Linked DNA regions of Homo sapiens: region 1 is linked to region 2. The links come from fine-mapping of genetic effects on gene expression. Tissue or cell type: transverse colon. Region 2 holds a variant in brackets; the other region holds the start of a gene. All regions are shown on one strand. Distances are between the middles of the regions.

Region 1 (8,090 bases), 38 kb after region 2:
CTCAATCTACTGACCTCCCTGGGATGAGACAGTATGACGGCTTTCCACATGTGCCTCACTTAACCGTAGAACACCTACTGTGTGCCAGCCCCTGGGAAGAGAGCCCGGAGCAGACTTGCAGGCAACCGTGCATGGGGACAGACACCGCGCACCAGCGGCACCCACCAGGGACAGATGCCACGCACCAGCGGCGCCCACCATGAACCTGGCTTGGCCCAATCGCTTTCTCCATAGGAAGCCATTCAATTAAACAAACATGACCATTTCAGTATAAATAAAGAGAAAACAAAACACAGAGCTGAGAGCTGCTTTGGAATGGGTAACGGGCCAGGAACAGAGACTCTCTCAGAGAGGCAGCATCTGAGCTGGGACCTGAATTAGATGGAGCCCACCAAATGCAGATCCAAGGAGGGGCCGAAAGCAGAGGCACAGGCAGTGCAAAGGCCCTGGAGTAAGAAGCCGGGGCTGACGCCAGACCCCTGTGAGCAAGGAGGGGAGAGGGAGGGGAGGGGAGGGGGAGAGGAGAACAAGGGAAGGGAGACAGAGTGGAGGGGCATCTAGGGCCTGTGGGGTCTGGAAAGGGGTCAGGACTTACTGAGACCCATGGCAAATCTCAAAGGGCTCTAAGTGGTCAAATTACATGAAGTGGTTTATCTTTTTAAACACCATGCTGGCTGCTGGCTGGAGAAGGGCTAGGAAGGCCACGAAAGGGGAGCCTACTAGGTAGCTGATGTGGAGCTCCAGGCAAGAGCTGGTAGGGCCAGGAGGGGAGTGGAGGCCAGCCCTGGAGGGAGTAGCCGGATGTGAGGTGGGCTGGGAGGCCGAGCAAAGCATTTGCTCTCAGCCTGGGTGGCTCTGAGATTTGCAACAAAGGCCCTCTAGGAATTCTGGATCCCTCTAAGCCAGCCAAGAAGGCTCATGTCCCACCCCCTCCCCATCTCCCACCTCAAGCCCTGGTCCTGAGGACACAGCTGGTGCCCACTCCGCTTAGTGTAGATGCCAGCACAAGGCAATCTCACATCCTCGTGGACATGATCCCAGAGGCCCTGGCTCAGAACAACTGTGATGCTAAGAGAACAACGCGGTCCTTAGTCCAAGTCCTTTGTACTCGACCGCCAACCCTACCACTCTCCGGAGCAGCTTCACTATCTGCCCATACATCTCCACGGGAAAGGTTACCCAGCCGTGGCCAAGACCCAGCCACCAAGGCCCCAAAACCTTTAAAAATCTTGACCAGCCCAGGAGCCCCATCCTCAGGCTGTCAGTTGCCTCCTCAAGCTGCAGGCTCGGTAAGTCATCAAGCAAAGCTGGCATCGAGAACAATATTCTTTTCCTTTGTGCCGGTCACAAGCAGCATGAGGACATCCAGGGCAGCATGCCTGTCCCTGTCGGGAGGCCAGTGGCCCTCACTTGTACCCCCCAACATCTACCCCCCAGCACACTGGTGCACTCCCTGGGCTCCCCTGCCAACCCTGCAAGTGGTGGGCACTTCTACCCACCTGGCCCTTGGACTCCACAAGGGGAGCTGCACCTAACGGCTCCCTCCCCGACAGCTCCCTTCCTGTCAAAATGACCGGGATCCTTTTGGCACTGTGCAACCCTGGGCCTCGGCCCCTCTACAACCCCCTGTCCCGGAGGTCAGAGCTTCCAGCTCCCCAGGCCTCTCCGGGAGAACCCTGAGCTGGGTCCACAACATTTCTCAGCTGCGGTCACAGGCTCAGATTCACCTGTCCCTTGAACAATAAATGGGAATGGGGGCGGGGGGCACCTTCTGTCATCTTGGGTAAGTTTTCCACCTGCACACTGTGCCTGTATGTGTGCAAACGTGTGCAGGCTTAACCACAGAATCAGCAGAGAGCACCAGTCCCCAAAACACAGCTGGCAGAGACACACACAGCCCTTCCACCCGCCGGCTTGTCACAGAGTGTTTCTCCCTCCCCCAAGCGTTACATGTCAGATTACTATCAGCGCTCAGAGTGAGGCCAGGATCTCAGGAGAGAAACTGATACCAGGCATTCTCAGCATAGTAAATACAATCCTGGGTAGGGGTTGGGTGGGGGGGGCGGTCTTGCGTTGGTATTCTGTAAAGAGCTGAAAGCAGTCCTTTGAAGAACATGGCCTATTCATGGCCCAATCTGGACCCAGAAAGGAGCCTCCACTGGACATGCAGGATGGCTGCCCGGGGTTCGACATCTGCAGGGCAGCCTCTCTGAGACCAGGCCCAGGACTGCAGGTCAGAGGCTCCTCATCCGGCCTATCTGCTGTGTCACCTTTCTTAAACACAGCCTGGCAAGACAGACACACGCGGTGCCTGCCTCCTGGCACCCCAGGCCAGCCCCACACGCGTGCAGGCAGACAATAGGATCTGCAGTTCTGGAGCCTGAGACCAGAAGGGAGCAGCTGGGCACATGATGCCACCCCAGGTTGCCACAAACCTGCCCGATGCCTGCAAAGCCCCCACTCACCTGGCAGGTTCAAGGAACAGCAAGGCCCTGTGTACCAAGGAGGTGGGATAAAAACGTGCAGAGGGGCCTTACTCCTGGGGTTGGGGAGCAGAGTTTCTGTTCAGTCTGGGATCTGGATCAGCCCTGGTGCAGGCAGACCCAAGAGCATCTATCTAGGATCCCAAAGGCTGGCCCACTTCTCCAGGCTTTGGGAGGCTGTATCAGGTGGGGTGGGACCCTTACAGAAGTCTTCCTGTAAAAGGCACCTTGAAGAGACTGGGGCAGACACACAGAGGGGAGCAAGTTGCGAAACGGCAAGAGAGGAAATCCACCCAGCCGCTTCGGCGGGGCAGACCCGCTCAGCCCAAGGATGAGGGAGGGGCTGGGCTCAGCCCAGGGACGAGGGAGGGGCAGGTAAGCCCACCCTGTGACCCCTCCATACCCCCAGGAGTCACCCCAAACCCTAACTCCAGTTGGCTTCTGACAGGAGGCAGCCCAGCGGTCTGGGTGGGGGTTGGGGGCGGTGCCTGGGAAGCCCAGGACGGGCCTGTTGCCCGGGGGGCTGCAGACTCCAGCCTCCTTCCTGCCTGCCCCACCCTCCTGCACCCCGCTCCCCGGGAGGAATCTTCAAGTGCACAAGACCCTCTTGAGGACTCAGGCACCTCAACAATCCCTAAGGCTCCACATCTTCAGGGGGTCAGTGCCCCAGAGATGGGGGCTGTGGGCAAGGTCCTTCCCTAGCCTGTAATCCAGGCAGCCCCCTGACTCTGCGGACTCAGACACAGCAGTCCTCCCAAGCCCGCAGCTGGGACGCCAGACTCAGATCCCAGACCCCCTGCAGACCCATCAAGACCTGGCTCCTTGGAGCCCGCGTCGGCCGAGCTGGGGGGACAGACCCCCTGATTGGCCAGGGTTTGTGGTGGTCAGACCCAGCCACCTTCCCTGGCGGTCCCGGCTCCTTTAAGCCCCACCAAGTGGGGAGCCGAGCTGGGCGCGCCGCTTCCCACTCGCGGGCCCCACCCGCCCCAACCCGCCAGGCGCCGACCCGTCCTGGCCCGGGGCGCCCCCAGGCTCCCGCGCTCCCCAGCTCCCCAGCGCGCGACCGGCCCCGCGGCGTGGTTCCCCGCACTGGCTACTGCCAGGGTCCGCGGGGCTGCGGCGCGAGCTCCTGGATCCCTTCGGCCGGCCCCCCGCGGCCCTCGGTTCGCTCCGGCCCTGCCCGGCGGGGCCCTCCGGATCCTTCCCAGCCCGCCATCCCCCCGCCGCCCTGCCGCCCCCCGGGCCGCCGCGCTCCTACCTCCTACCGTGCCGCGAGCTCGGTGCTCCGGGCCGGCCGGGCGCGCGGGGGCTCCACTGGCGGCGCGGGCCTGGCTGCAGGAAATGCCAGCAGATGGTCCCCCCGCGCGAGGCGGAGCGAGGGCGCGGCGGAGGGAGGAGGCCCAGGGAGCCCGGAGGCGGGAGGAGGAGGCGCGGCGGCCGCAAAACCCGGGCCGAATCGCCGCGCGGAGCGGGCGCCCAGGGGCTGCCCCCCACCGGCTGCCGCTTCTCCTCATCCCCCAACCCCCCGCGCGCGCTCCGGGGCTCACACCCACCCGGGCGGCCAGAGGTCGGGACACTCCGCTGAAAATGGCCAGGAGGCTTGGCGGGGTGGGCAGCGGTGAGTGGGGTCAGCTTCGTGGGGTTCTCCAACTTAGGGGTGCAGGCCCCCAGCCCACCCTAGCCAGGGTGCGAGGCGCCTCCTCTCCCTTCCTGAACCCAGGAAACTGTCGCCGTTTCTCCCCGTCTCAGGAGCCATCAGAACACAAGAGGAGCCCCAGACATCTGAGCCCGTTGTCCCTGCCCCTTATGTGCTAAGAAGGACCCTCAGTCACACTCTAACTGTACGTCTTTCTCAGGACCCTTTTGACAAGAACCTCCCCTCATGTGCATTTCTTCCTGTGTTTTCTCCTCACCTTCTTCTACCCCCCAGAGACCTTTTTAGACCCCTCAGTTCTCTTGTATATAAAAGACATTCTAATTCCCCTAAACAGCATCCCCTTGGGAGCTGAGAAGTCCTCCCCTGGCCCCTGGCTCCCTGCCTGTAGACCCTAAATTGGGTGTGGGCCCAGGGCTGGCCCCAGGGCGTTTGCATCCCTAGTGTCCAAGCCTGAGGTGCACTGCAGGTCCTTCCTATGGTATGTCCCCAAATGACCAGAAAAACTGGGAGCTGGGCTCGGGCATCCCCAGATGTAGGTAGACCCCAAGAGGGCGTGGAGTCTTTTCCACACAGAACCTTAACAGGGACAGAACTGACCCTCCGCAGAGAGCCCTGGGCTCCTCCCCAGGCAGAACTGCCACTGACACGTGTGTTTCTACGGTTTCACGCTGCAGTTGCATTCGGGAGGCCGCAAGCCTGGCTATCATGGGCGTCTGCAAGACCTCCCAGCAGGGCTGCGGAGGGCGAGCGGCCCAGGAAGGCTCCTTCCAGCACCTGAAGGGGGAACGGCACAGCATGCAGGTGCTCTGCCCACAACAAGCCAGACCCCTTCCCGTCTCAGCCCTGGCCTTGCCCACCCCGTTAGACAAGTTGGTGGGTATCCTCCTGGGGATAGCAGCACCAGCCGCTTGTGTGCGGATCACAGGAACCCACGGCTTACGGAGGCGAGTGGGCTGATCGGACTTGCCCTAAGCTTACCCCCAGGGCTAGCATTGCCATTCCATAGTCACCTTGTGAGGCCTTGGGATGCAGAACTGCTCAGTCAAGATGCTCAGGGCCATGGTGGGACCCTGCTCCGCGTGGCCTGTGGCAGGCGGCCTCTGCCTCTGCAGGAGAGGGTCTGTGCAGCTGGGATCCACATACAACTGCTGGGTCTGCTCTTTGAAGACTCCGCCCAAAGCTGAGGTGCTGCTGCCTGGTAACTTGCTGGTTGCTGGAGCCAATCCAAAGGGAATTAGGGAAGAAAACAAAGCCCCTATCCCTAGGGCGGAGGTCTCAGGGGCGGCAGTAGGGAAGGTTGCCAGTTGCTTGATGCTGGCTGTCCAGGGCCTGGGTTTCATGAAATGACACTGCTGAGGGCAGAGGTCAAAAGTCAAAGAGGCACCTGAGGGTGGGGGAAGGGGCCATAGATGACAGCAGGGTGGGGCTGGGGTGGAGCAGGACGAGGGTTGAGCCTCTCACTGGGTAGTGTCTGACAGCCAGATGGCCATGCAAGAAATGAAGAACACGCCACCTGCCAGGCTCAGTGACAGGTGTCAGTTGTCTGCCCCACTTCCCAGCAGGCTCTGCATTTTTCCAGAAAGCCCCATTTCCAGCCTCTTGCCTGGTTTTGGAGAGGCAGTGAGCCGAAGAGGTTGCCCCCAGCAAGAGGTAGGTCCGAATCCTGCTGCTGCCAGAAAGAAGCTCTGTCACCAGGCAGTGGCTTGTTCCTCCTGGGACCCCGCTTCCTCTCCTGTCAGATGGACACAGCATCTGTGCCTGGTGGCCAACGCAGGAAATGAAGGCGTCAGAGGTCTCAGAGATGGGCAGAGCCAGGTGCCAATGGCACCAGCTTTAGGGGGGCACGCCCAGTAGGCCCCACCATCCAGGAGCCCTTGAGCAGGTTTGTGCAACTGGCCGTGCCTCAGTTTCCTCATCTATAAATGGCGATGACCAGAGCAGTTTCCGCTGCATGAGCTGCCATAAGTCCCCAGTGGGCCAACAGACTTTGCAAGCGCTGGCTGTTGGTGGGCACTGGGGACCATGAGTGGACTATGGGAAGGAACGGCTTGCAGCGCCCAGCTGGTTAGTTTGGAATTTATGGTAATTCAGAAAAATATGTCTGTGATAAGTAAGAACTTAAAAAATGCTTTGCAAGGACAGTGCAATTTAAAATCAGGGCAGTTCCAATCCAAGTCTCCAGAATGGCAGTTCTCTGCTAGGGGCGGTTTTGCCTCCAGTTTCCAGGTGGCATTTGCCACTGCCTGGAGATAGTTCTGGCCGTCGTCATTGGAGGTTGCTACTGGTGTCTAGTGGGTAGAGGCCGAGGATGTTGCTAAACACGTTGTCATGCACGGGACAGCCTCCACCACAAAGGGTGACCCGGCCCCAAATGCTGGTCATGCTGAGGTCAAGAATCCCTGCCCCAGAAGTGAATACATGTCCACCTGCTGGCATCACTCCTTGGTTTCGGGTGGTTGGTCTAAGCCCCCAAGGCCTCCTGCTGATGGAGCCCCTACCCTGTCCCAGGTTCTTTGCATCTCATCTACTTCTCCTGACCCCGACTGAGGGGTGAATAAGATGGCTGTGGGCACCTTTCTCGTGTCAGACCCTTTTCTGAGGGCTTTAGACACTTGGTGCATTTAATCTGCCTCACAACTTTATGAGCTGGTTCTGTCGTGATTGGCTCCATTTCACAGATGGGGAAGCTGAGGCACAGCAGGCGAGGCAGTCACCAACCTCTCTGGCTCCAGAACTGTGCTCTGATCTGCCGTGCTCTGCCACCTGGTTCATAATGAAGACCCACCGGCTCAGAGGAAACCCCCCCGCAAAAGCCCCTGCCCCTTCTGCTACATCTGGCTGCCTCCCTGGGAAGGGCTGGGGTGGCCAGGACATGTGGGAACAGCGCTGGGCCCAATCCAGAGAAGGTGCCACCAACCGGGGAAGCCTTGCTCAGGGCTTCAGCCACTACAGGAGCCAGTGGGGCTGGGTGTGGCCCCCTAGGGAGAGACCTTAAGCAGGTCAGGGCCGGCAAACTGTCATCGGTTATCTCCTTTGGTCCTTTACAGCCTTTTTTTTTTTTTTTTTTTTTTTTTTTTTGAGACGGAGTCTCACTCTGTCGCTCAGGATGGAGTGCAGTGGCACAACCTCGGCTCACTGCAACCTCCGCTCTCCAAGTTCAAGCGATTCTCCTGCCTCAGGCTCCTGAGTAGCTGAGATTACAGGTGCCCGCCACCACACCCGGCTACTTTTTGTATTTTTTGTAGAGATGGGGTTTCACCATCTTGGCCAGGCTGGTCTTGAACTCCTGACCTTGTGATCGACCCTCCTCGGACTCCCAAAGTGCTGGGATTACGGGCATGAGCCACCGCGCCCGGCCCTTTTCAGTCTTCTGAGGTAGCAATAACCACTTCTCTCCATTAGACAGATGAGGAAACCGAGGCCCCAGTAGTAAGGGGTGCACCTGGACTTTGGTGGGTCTCCGACTCCTAGTGGGACACCTGCCCGGTTTCCCTGGGCTGCAGTGGGGAGACCCAGGGGTGAGCCTGGGCTCTGCTGCCCTCCCTGCTGCCCTGAAGGCACATCCACCGCCAGGTGTGGTCTCTGGTGGGAGCCCATTCTGTTTCCTTTCCGGGCAGGGGGAGGAGATTCCATCTCCCGTAGGCGGTGGGGCGTCAGTGAAACTCAAAGCGTCCAGATAGTCTCCACAGCACAAAGCTAATCATGAAAACATCGCAGCATGTATGGACCGTTTGCCATGCGCCTGGCACTACGTCCTCAACTTCACGTGACCGGATTGCATCCCCCGCACTGCCGGCAAGCCTGTGGTTATCAGTATCCCCAGCTTACAGACGCCGAAGTGGAAAGTCAAGGAGGTGAAGCCACCAGCTCCAGGCTGGCCACTGGGGAGCGTCCCAGGCAGGACTGGAAGCCAAGCTAGCGTTCCGGTTACAGGAGGCAGGCTCTCCCCG
Region 2 (8,090 bases):
CAAGCTACGACCCGAATCCTGCCTGCTGCCTCCTTCCGCGTGGTCTGCAAGCTAAGAACAGCTTCCACAGTTTTAATCAGTTGAAAAAAAATCACAAGAATAATTTGTGAGATGTGAAAATTATATGAAATTCAAATGAGGAGTCCATAAATAAGGTTTTCTTGGCACATGGCCAGGCGATCCGGCAGGCGTTGTCTGTGGCTGTTCTCGTGCTTGGATGGCTGTGCTGAGTACCTGGAACGGAGCCTGCGCCGCGGCGGGGCCTAAATGCCGTCTGGCCTTTTCCAGAGAAAGCGTGCCCGCCCTGCCCTGCTCTGGCTGGGCGTCTGCGGGTGCTCAGCACTTTCCAGCGGAGCCTCTAGGGCGAGGAAAGCCTCCCTCAGGCCTTCTCCTGGCTAGAAGCCCTGGGCGCTGGGGACTGCCCCCACCCCAATCATGATGGTGCTAAGTACAGAGCTAAAGCCTTGTCTGCTGGGGCACCAGGTCCTGTTCGGGTGCTGCCTGTATTCATCCCCCTCATTCTCCAGCCATGCATAAGGTGGGGCCGGTTATTGTCCCTATTTTATTTCTGTGCCTGGGAAATCAAGGCACAGAGAGGTGGAGAGCTAGCAAGGGGCAGGGCATGGAACCGTTCCACGGACTGGCGGTCCTGGCAGCACTGGGCACCAGGCTTGGCCTTAGGCACTGAGGTTAGAAAGTAAAGATGCCAGTGTCCTGCTCTTTCAGGGAGAGGCAGACCAGCCACCAGCACGCAGAGGCGGGAGGAGCCAGGGGTCAGGTGAGCGCTGCGGTTCTGCGTTCTGTGCATGGATGTAAGCACGTTAGATCCCACAGCTCAGGTCATCGTTGTTATTCTCAGCATTGTACAGAGGAAGAGCCTACGCACAGAGAGGTTCAGAAACCTGCCCAAGGTCACACAGCTAATAAGGAGCTGAGCTGGGACTGAACCCAGGCAGTGTTGCTCCATTGTGGCACTTTCTTAGCCAAGTAAGAGCATTCAGGATCACAAGAAGAAAACGGCACAAGATGGGGTGCCTGGGGGGCTCTGACTTGGAAGCAGTCTTTGGGCTGACGATGAGTGATAAGGAGGAGGCAGATCTGAGTGACGAGGCATATGCTGGACCCTGGCCAGTTGACAGGCCTCCAGGGACCCAGGCTGGCAGAGAAGGTGTCCTAAGTTGCCCTCCTGGGAGTCCCCTGAGCCAGGATCTTGTTCATGATGCCCTTAGTTACCTTGGCACATGGTGTTCCCAGCCTGGAATGCTTTTCCCTGTGGCTGGGTAGCCCCTGCTCCTTTCTTTCTCAGGCTCCCTGAGCTGCTTCCCCAGAAGCAGGACAGCTCATATCCCTGCTGGCACAGGTCCTGGTGACACACACCACCCTTGGCCCGCCCAGGACTTTTGCAATACAACCACGCAGCCGTTTCTGTGGTGAACTGATGATTGTCTGTGGCTTCCACCAGGGGAGGGTTCTACCCTACTGCCCATTCACACCGGCAGCTGGGGGCTTAGCAAGCATCTCGAATGAATGAATGGATGAATGGATGGATGGATGGATGGATGGATGGACGCATGAACCTGCTGCCAATTCCCCTCTGCCCAGCTTCCCACTAGATGCAGCTGAATGGGGCTGTGTGTATTTGAGGCAACAGGGGAAGAGAGAGGCAAGACCGCATGGCATGGGATGGAGCACTTGCAACCCCTGCTCCCCAACTGGGCAGGACCCTTGGGTCTGGTCACTGCAGCCCCTGCAGCCCCAGCACTGCAGAGAGTGCCTGCCCACTCCTCCCTCCTGCAGGCCAGGTGGGTACCCCGTCCAGGCATGCCAGGTCCTCTGCTCACTCCTCAGTGCTACTGTGCATCAGTGACAGTGCCATAAGGAGGCACCTGAGAGATGAGAAGTGCTGCTCAGAACTGTGAACTTCAGGCTGACCAGAACTTTGCAACCTATGAAAATTCCTTAAAAATATAATTTAGAACCACCTACGGAATGGGAGGAAGTAGTCGCAAATCATGTATCGGATAAGGACCTAGTATCCAAAATGCATAAAGAACTCTTGCAGCTCAGCAACAAAAAGGCAAACAACCCATTCCAAAAATGGACAAATAACTGGAATAGACATTTCTCCAAACAGGACATACAAATGGCTAATGGGTGCACGAAGATGTTCAATGTTATCCGTCATTAGAGATGCAAACTGAAGCCGCAGTGAGATGCTACTTCATACCCGCTAGGATAGCTATAAAAATAACACAAAAAAGAACAAATCACGCCTGTAATCCCAGCACTTTGGGAGGCCGAGGCGGGTGGATCATGAGGTCAGGAGATCAAGGCCATCCTGGCTAACACGGTGAAACCCGTCTCTACTAAAAATACAAAAAAATTGGCCGGGCGTGGTGGCGGGCGCCTGTAGTCCCAGCTACTCGGGAGGCTGAGGCAGGGGCATGGTGTGAACCCGGGAGGCGGAGCTTGCAGTGAGCCGAGATCGCGCCACTGCACTCCAGCCTGGGTGACAGAGCGAGACTCCGTCTCAAAAAAAAAAAAAAAAAAATACAAAAAATTGGCCGGCCGTGGTGGCGGGCACCTGTAGTCCCAGCTCCTCGGGAGGCTGAGGCAGGAGAATGGCGTGAACTTGGGAGGCGGAGCTTGCAGTGAGCTGAGATTGTGCCACTGCACTCCAGCCTGGGTGACAGAGGGAGACTCCATTTCAAAGAAAAAGGAAAAAAGAAAACAACAAATCAGAAAATAGCAAGCGTTGGTGAGGATGTGAGGAACTGGAGCCCTTGTGCACTGTGGGTGGCCATGTAAGATGGTGCAGCCGCTGGGAAAGGAGTTTGGCAGTTCCTCCAAAAGTTAAACAGACAATTTTGAGAGTTCTATATTATCCTGGAATTACCATGTGACCTAGCAATTCCAATTACTCTAGGTTTATACCTGAGAGAACTGAAAACTGATAGTCAAATACACGTGCACACATGTTCACGGAAGCATTTTTCATGACAGCTATATGGTGAAAACAGCCCAAATATCCACCAGCAGCCCTCCCGGAGCAGCACAGTCTAGGATTGGGAGCTGTTTCCCCCGAACAGGCTGGAATGGCAGGCTCAGCTGGACGCCCTGCTGTCCTTTTCCCCAGCCGTTTCCTGCTGTCCCCAGAGCCAGGCTCTGGCTCATGGATCCTCCTATACCCAGGCTCTTACCGGTGGCACCTTCGTGGCAGAGCTTGGGGTCGGGGGCCCTTCATCCCTGGGCAGCGACGGGCCGTTGGGCTCCATGTCCTTCCCTGCAAGAGAGCAGTGGGAGTGAGGACCCAGGCATGGTGGCGTGGCCAGGCTTCTCAGGCCGCTGCCTGGTGTGAGGCAGGCGAAGCGTGGGTGCGGATGACCTGGGAGGGGCAGGAAGTCAGCCGGAGGTGGTGGCAGGAACAGGACACTGCCTGAGAGGTGTAATAAACGCCAGCAAGCGTCACTGTGGGAGGAGTGTGCCAGGAGAACTGGCAG[G/A]GCCTCCAGGACCTACAGGGAGGAAGCTGGGACAGGAGCTGGTAGGAACCGGCATCCTGGGCCTGCTGTAGTGTGCAATTGGGGGTCTGTGAAGGCCAGAGTCCCCAGTTTTCAGAAAAAGAATGTGACATCCAGTCTCAAAGACACATGGCAGGTTTGGGGCCCCTGGACTGTGCATCCCCCTGGCTGGATGCTGCCGGCCCCTGCGTGCTGGGCTCTTGCTGGGAGGTGGTCAGCCCTGTCTGCCATCCCACCCTGGCAGGCTGGGTAAGGAGGGAGAGGCAAAGGAGGGAGACCTGAGGTGTCTGCGTTTGCTCCTTTGGGAAATGGCCTCCCCTCCCCCGGCTCTGTTTGCTTTGGTGCCAGTTTCCCAAGGTACGATTTCTGGACAGGAGGAAGGAGGGGATGGCTGCAGGGGAAGCCTGAGGTCTGCCCAGCAGGGCCGCTCCCGCTGCTTCCTGTGGCTGGTGGGCGAGGGTTGACTGCCCCGGTCCCTGACACTGAGACTCGGAGGGGCTGGGGGCTGGAGTGAACCCCATCCTGCCAAGGCCACAGGCGACAGGCCAGCAACAGGCTGGGTGCGTGGACAGACGCCACAGACCAGCTGGAAGGCCTGGGGTCTATAGCCGTCCTTCCCTGACAGCCCTGGGCAGGGACTGGATGGGGACGAAGAACGGAAAAGCCAGGACGGTGGCCTGAGGAAGTGGTTCTGTCCAAAGGTCCTGGACCGTGGCCACTCACAGTCACAGAACATCGCTGACCCTGGCCGGCAGTGGCTGCTCCCCCACCTGGGAGCCTCTGCTTCCCCATCTGCAGAGTGCTACGCCCCTGACCCGGAGTGCTGGGGGGAGGCTAGCAGGAGCGCTCTTCCCTCTGGCACTTTCTCATATAGTTCTAGGGGCTTGGCCTGTGGCCGCCAGCAAACTACTTTCCATGTGGATGCTGCCTCCTGGCCGGGAGGACTCAAAGGCTGGGGCCCTTGGACCACTCAAAGGGATAGGGTGCAGGTGCCCTGGGCAGGGGGAAGTCAGCACTGGTCCTTCTCCTCACAGCCTGTCCACACCCACCCCACTCCCTTGGCCTGGGACCTACCGCCTCCATTCCTCGGAAAAGGCCCTTCCCAGCACGTCTTCTGCACCGCCTGGGCCAGTTGCTAGTTGGTCCGAGTCCCTCTGAAACTGACCAGCAGCTGGGACCCAGCCCTTCCCCTCCCCACCCCTGACTCTGCAAGTGCTTCTAAGCCTCCGGCCAGGGTGAACGTGACAGCAGAGAATAAAAGGTGTAGGATTTACCTTGCCGGGTGTCGAGTGCCCCTGCCTGCCATAGCACCTTCAGCAAGGCCACCTCTACGCTGGGACTCCGTTTTTCCATCTATTGGATGGGACTTTGGCTGCGACCACACGCCCCTCGAGCCTGGGTGGTGGATCCGCCCAATGCTCTCCCACTCCCCCCAGGGCAGATGAGATGACCATGGCCAGGCAGGGCTGGGGCTCCCACTTCCTCAGCCCCAAAGCAGGCAGTGGGAGGAGAGGGGGCAGAGCTGGGGAGAGGTCCCCCAGGCAGGTGCCTGCCCCTACCTCCTACTCTCAGGGGAACAGGGGAGGAAGGGCTGGGTTTTCTGGGGGACAGCAGTCACAGCTCAGCCTTGGCTGGGGCAGGGGTTGTGCATAGTTAGGTGCCAGGGAGGGGCCTGGAGAGTGGCAGCATTGGCGGGCAGAGGTTCTGAGTCTGTGTGCTGGGTGCTTTATCTACAATTGCACGAAGGCAGGCCTGGTTCCAGCTGTCCCCTCTCAGAGCCCAGGACCCATGTATAGCTGGGAGTAGGTACTAATATTGTCCCATTTTATAGATCAGTCAACTGAGGCCTAGAGAGGTCAAGTAGCTGGCCTGGGGTTACCCTGCCAGGACTGGGGCTCAGGCCACCTGTCCCTGGAGCCTGCACTCCATAACTCCCAAAGCCTGGGCTGACTTTGGGATGACTGCACTCCATAACTCCCAAAGCCTGGGCTGTGGGAACCCCCTCCTCAACCAGATGGGCTTCACCTGGCCCCGCAGGTCAAGCCAAGAAGCCGTATTACCTGGCACTCTACCAAGCTACAAACCGTTTGATCATGAAACCCACACAGTCCCCAGCATGGAAGCTGTGGACCTCAAGGGGCACAGAGGGGTTGGGCCGCCCGGGGTCACCCCACCGGGCCCAAGCTGAGGGCCAGGTTGCCCTGCCCACGGCCGGCACTTACCTGGGCTGAGTGGGTAGAGCTCATTGTCTCCGCTGAGGAGCAAGTTCCGGGTGAGCTTCCGGGGGTCGACTTTCTGAGGGGTGGAGGAAGGTGGACACAGGGAGAAGCGGCGCCGGAGGAAGGCCTCCTCCTTCATGCTGTGGGCGCTCGGGGGCTTCTGGAAGGAAGGAAGGAGGGGCAGCAGGAGGTCACCGCCCCGGAAGGGGCTTCAGAGCCACATGGTGGGGGTGCCCCTGGCTAAGAAGTCCCCCTCTCAGGGGACTTCTGAGGCAGGGTGAGGAGGGCCTGGGCCCTGGGAGCCTGGTGGTGGGTGGTCAGCCAGGACAGCCCAGCTCAGGCGAATGGCTTTGGCTGGTGCCAGCCCTTTCCACGCCGGGCAGTAGGGCTGGACGGAGCCCTGGTCAGAGAGGCTCATCACCACCCTCGGAAGATGTCCTTCTCAGAACCCCCACCCCAGGTTCTGTGAGACCCTGGCTGCAGCCAGGCAGACCCACGTGTAGACACAGGTTTTCCCTCCCGCATTTCCCTCCCACGTGACAGCACTTTGTGGTGGGGAGGGGTCTAGAGCTTCCATGGAGAAGATGCACGGGGGTGAGACCAGGTGGCCGCTGAGCACCAGGGAGTGGCTGGCACGGTGTTGGGCAGTCCGGGAGCCTGGCCTGCCATCCATCTAAGGGTCCCAGGAGCGCCTCGCCTCTGGTTAAGCCCGCCTGAAGCTTGGGTGCCCCAACAGTTTCAGTTGCACCCACATGCACCCCAGCAAGAGAGGGAGCTCTGGGCGCTCACAGCCAGGCACACCTGCGTCCACGCCCAGCCCAAGACGTTGCATTCCCAGTGGGAGCTTCCTTGCTGCTTCACAAAAGAGGGAGGCCCCACAGCCAGGCCCTGACACCCACCTGCCTCGCTCTCCCAGCCCCGCCCACTGGCAGACCTGCCTTTCCCCTGTGGGTTCAGAAGCGAGTTTCTTGTTTCCTCCCCTGGAAGGAGAGAGGACAACAGGCGGTCCCCTCTGTCCTGCTCCCCACCAGCCCTACACCTAGTAGTGCTGGGCCAAGCAGAGGGTAACTGATTGCAGTCACGCCTTTGCAGGCACTTGAAGTTGACGGCGCCAGATCCACTGAGGTCTCAGCCCATTTTACAGATGAGAAAATCATGGCTCAGGGAGTGGAAGGCCTCGACCTGTAATCGTGACCTGACAAGGGTTGGCAGAGCATCCCCTCCAGCTTCTCATCTTGTGTCCACTTCCCAAGGGCGAGCTCCTTAAAAACTACTGGTCAATTTTCCTCCTTTCCCAATTTTCTGGGGCTGCTTCCTGCTGCCTCAGGGCAGGCCAGTGGCATCCTGCCAAGCCCGGGACAAAGGCCTCGATTTCTCCCATGGTCCTGGGCTTTGCTGGGGGGGGCCTCAGACACACAGAGACTTTCCTGCTGTGGCTTCAGGAGTGGGCTGGGGGCCCAGGGTGTCTGTGGTCCTGGGGGCTTCTGTCCACCACCCCAGAGCCCCCTCTGTGCCCCCAGTCCTGAAGTCAGAGTGGGGAGGGGCTCCAAGGATGCAGCCAGGCTGGGCCAGCCCCTCCCTCACCTGGCCCCTGGCTCGGCTCATGACCTTGGCCATCTTACACACAGGGCAGCTGGCTTCAGAGAGGCTGGCGTTTTGGCCCAGGTCACAGAGCTAACAATCAGCAATGCCGTCCTTAAGCCAGGTGGAACCGATCCTAAAACCCAGCCGCTGAGTGTCTGCCCACTCAGTGTCTCAGCTTGGCTCAGCCAACCTGCCGCAGGGAAGCAGGCAGATGGGAAGTCCTGCCCCTACTTGTCAATCACAACAAACACGTCCTACTTGCCCAGGTGCAGCTCAGGATGGGAACCAGCAGCTGAGCGGAGGCCGGGCTTACTCAGACAGCTGAGATTTTCTGAGCACCCAGGCTGGGCTGGGCACCAGGCAGCCAAGGTAAGTGAGCAGCGATCCTGCTCTCAGGACCCACAGAGAGCCCCGGAATGTCCCAGGCAGTGTGGTGACAGCGATTCCCAGGTAGGTCTCCCTCACTTGGAACCTCCTGGGGCAGGGAGAGGGGCTCAAAACCTAGCCTCAGCTGCCCTGTCTGGCTGTCTGCTCCAGTTCCACCTGGGCCAAGGTAGAAAGGCCATAGGGGATCTTGGTACCTTTCTGCTCAGATACCCCACATACCTTCTCCCAGCACCAATGACAGCCAGTGGGACTTCTTAGTCTGTGAGTGCCACCATCCACTCATCTATACACCAGTCTCATCTATACACCAGTCTCCCGCTCCCTTGTATCCCTCCATCTATACATACATACATCTCCCTTCCAGGCATCCATCCATCCATCC

Evidence for each region. PIP is the estimated chance that this variant, and not a neighbour inherited with it, causes the effect.
Region 1: it holds the start of OSBPL5, and the variant in region 2 is fine-mapped to the expression of OSBPL5 in transverse colon (GTEx, PIP 0.97).

What each region holds. Positions count from the first base shown.
Region 1 is chr11:3,161,475-3,169,564 of GRCh38, forward strand. It overlaps OSBPL5 (oxysterol binding protein like 5), which reads right to left and starts at 3,836. Exons shown (of 22, transcript NM_020896.4): 1 at 3,742-3,836. RefSeq lists enhancers at 1,881-2,574, 4,318-5,030.
Region 2 is chr11:3,123,273-3,131,362 of GRCh38, forward strand. OSBPL5 (oxysterol binding protein like 5) reads right to left here. Exons shown (of 22, transcript NM_020896.4): 2 at 5,741-5,897; 3 at 3,201-3,283. The coding sequence starts at 5,876. Among named protein-coding and RNA genes, the nearest start is that of OSBPL5, 38 kb to the right of the region's middle. RefSeq lists a silencer at 1,167-1,461. The variant G/A (reference allele first, on the strand shown) is at 3,501.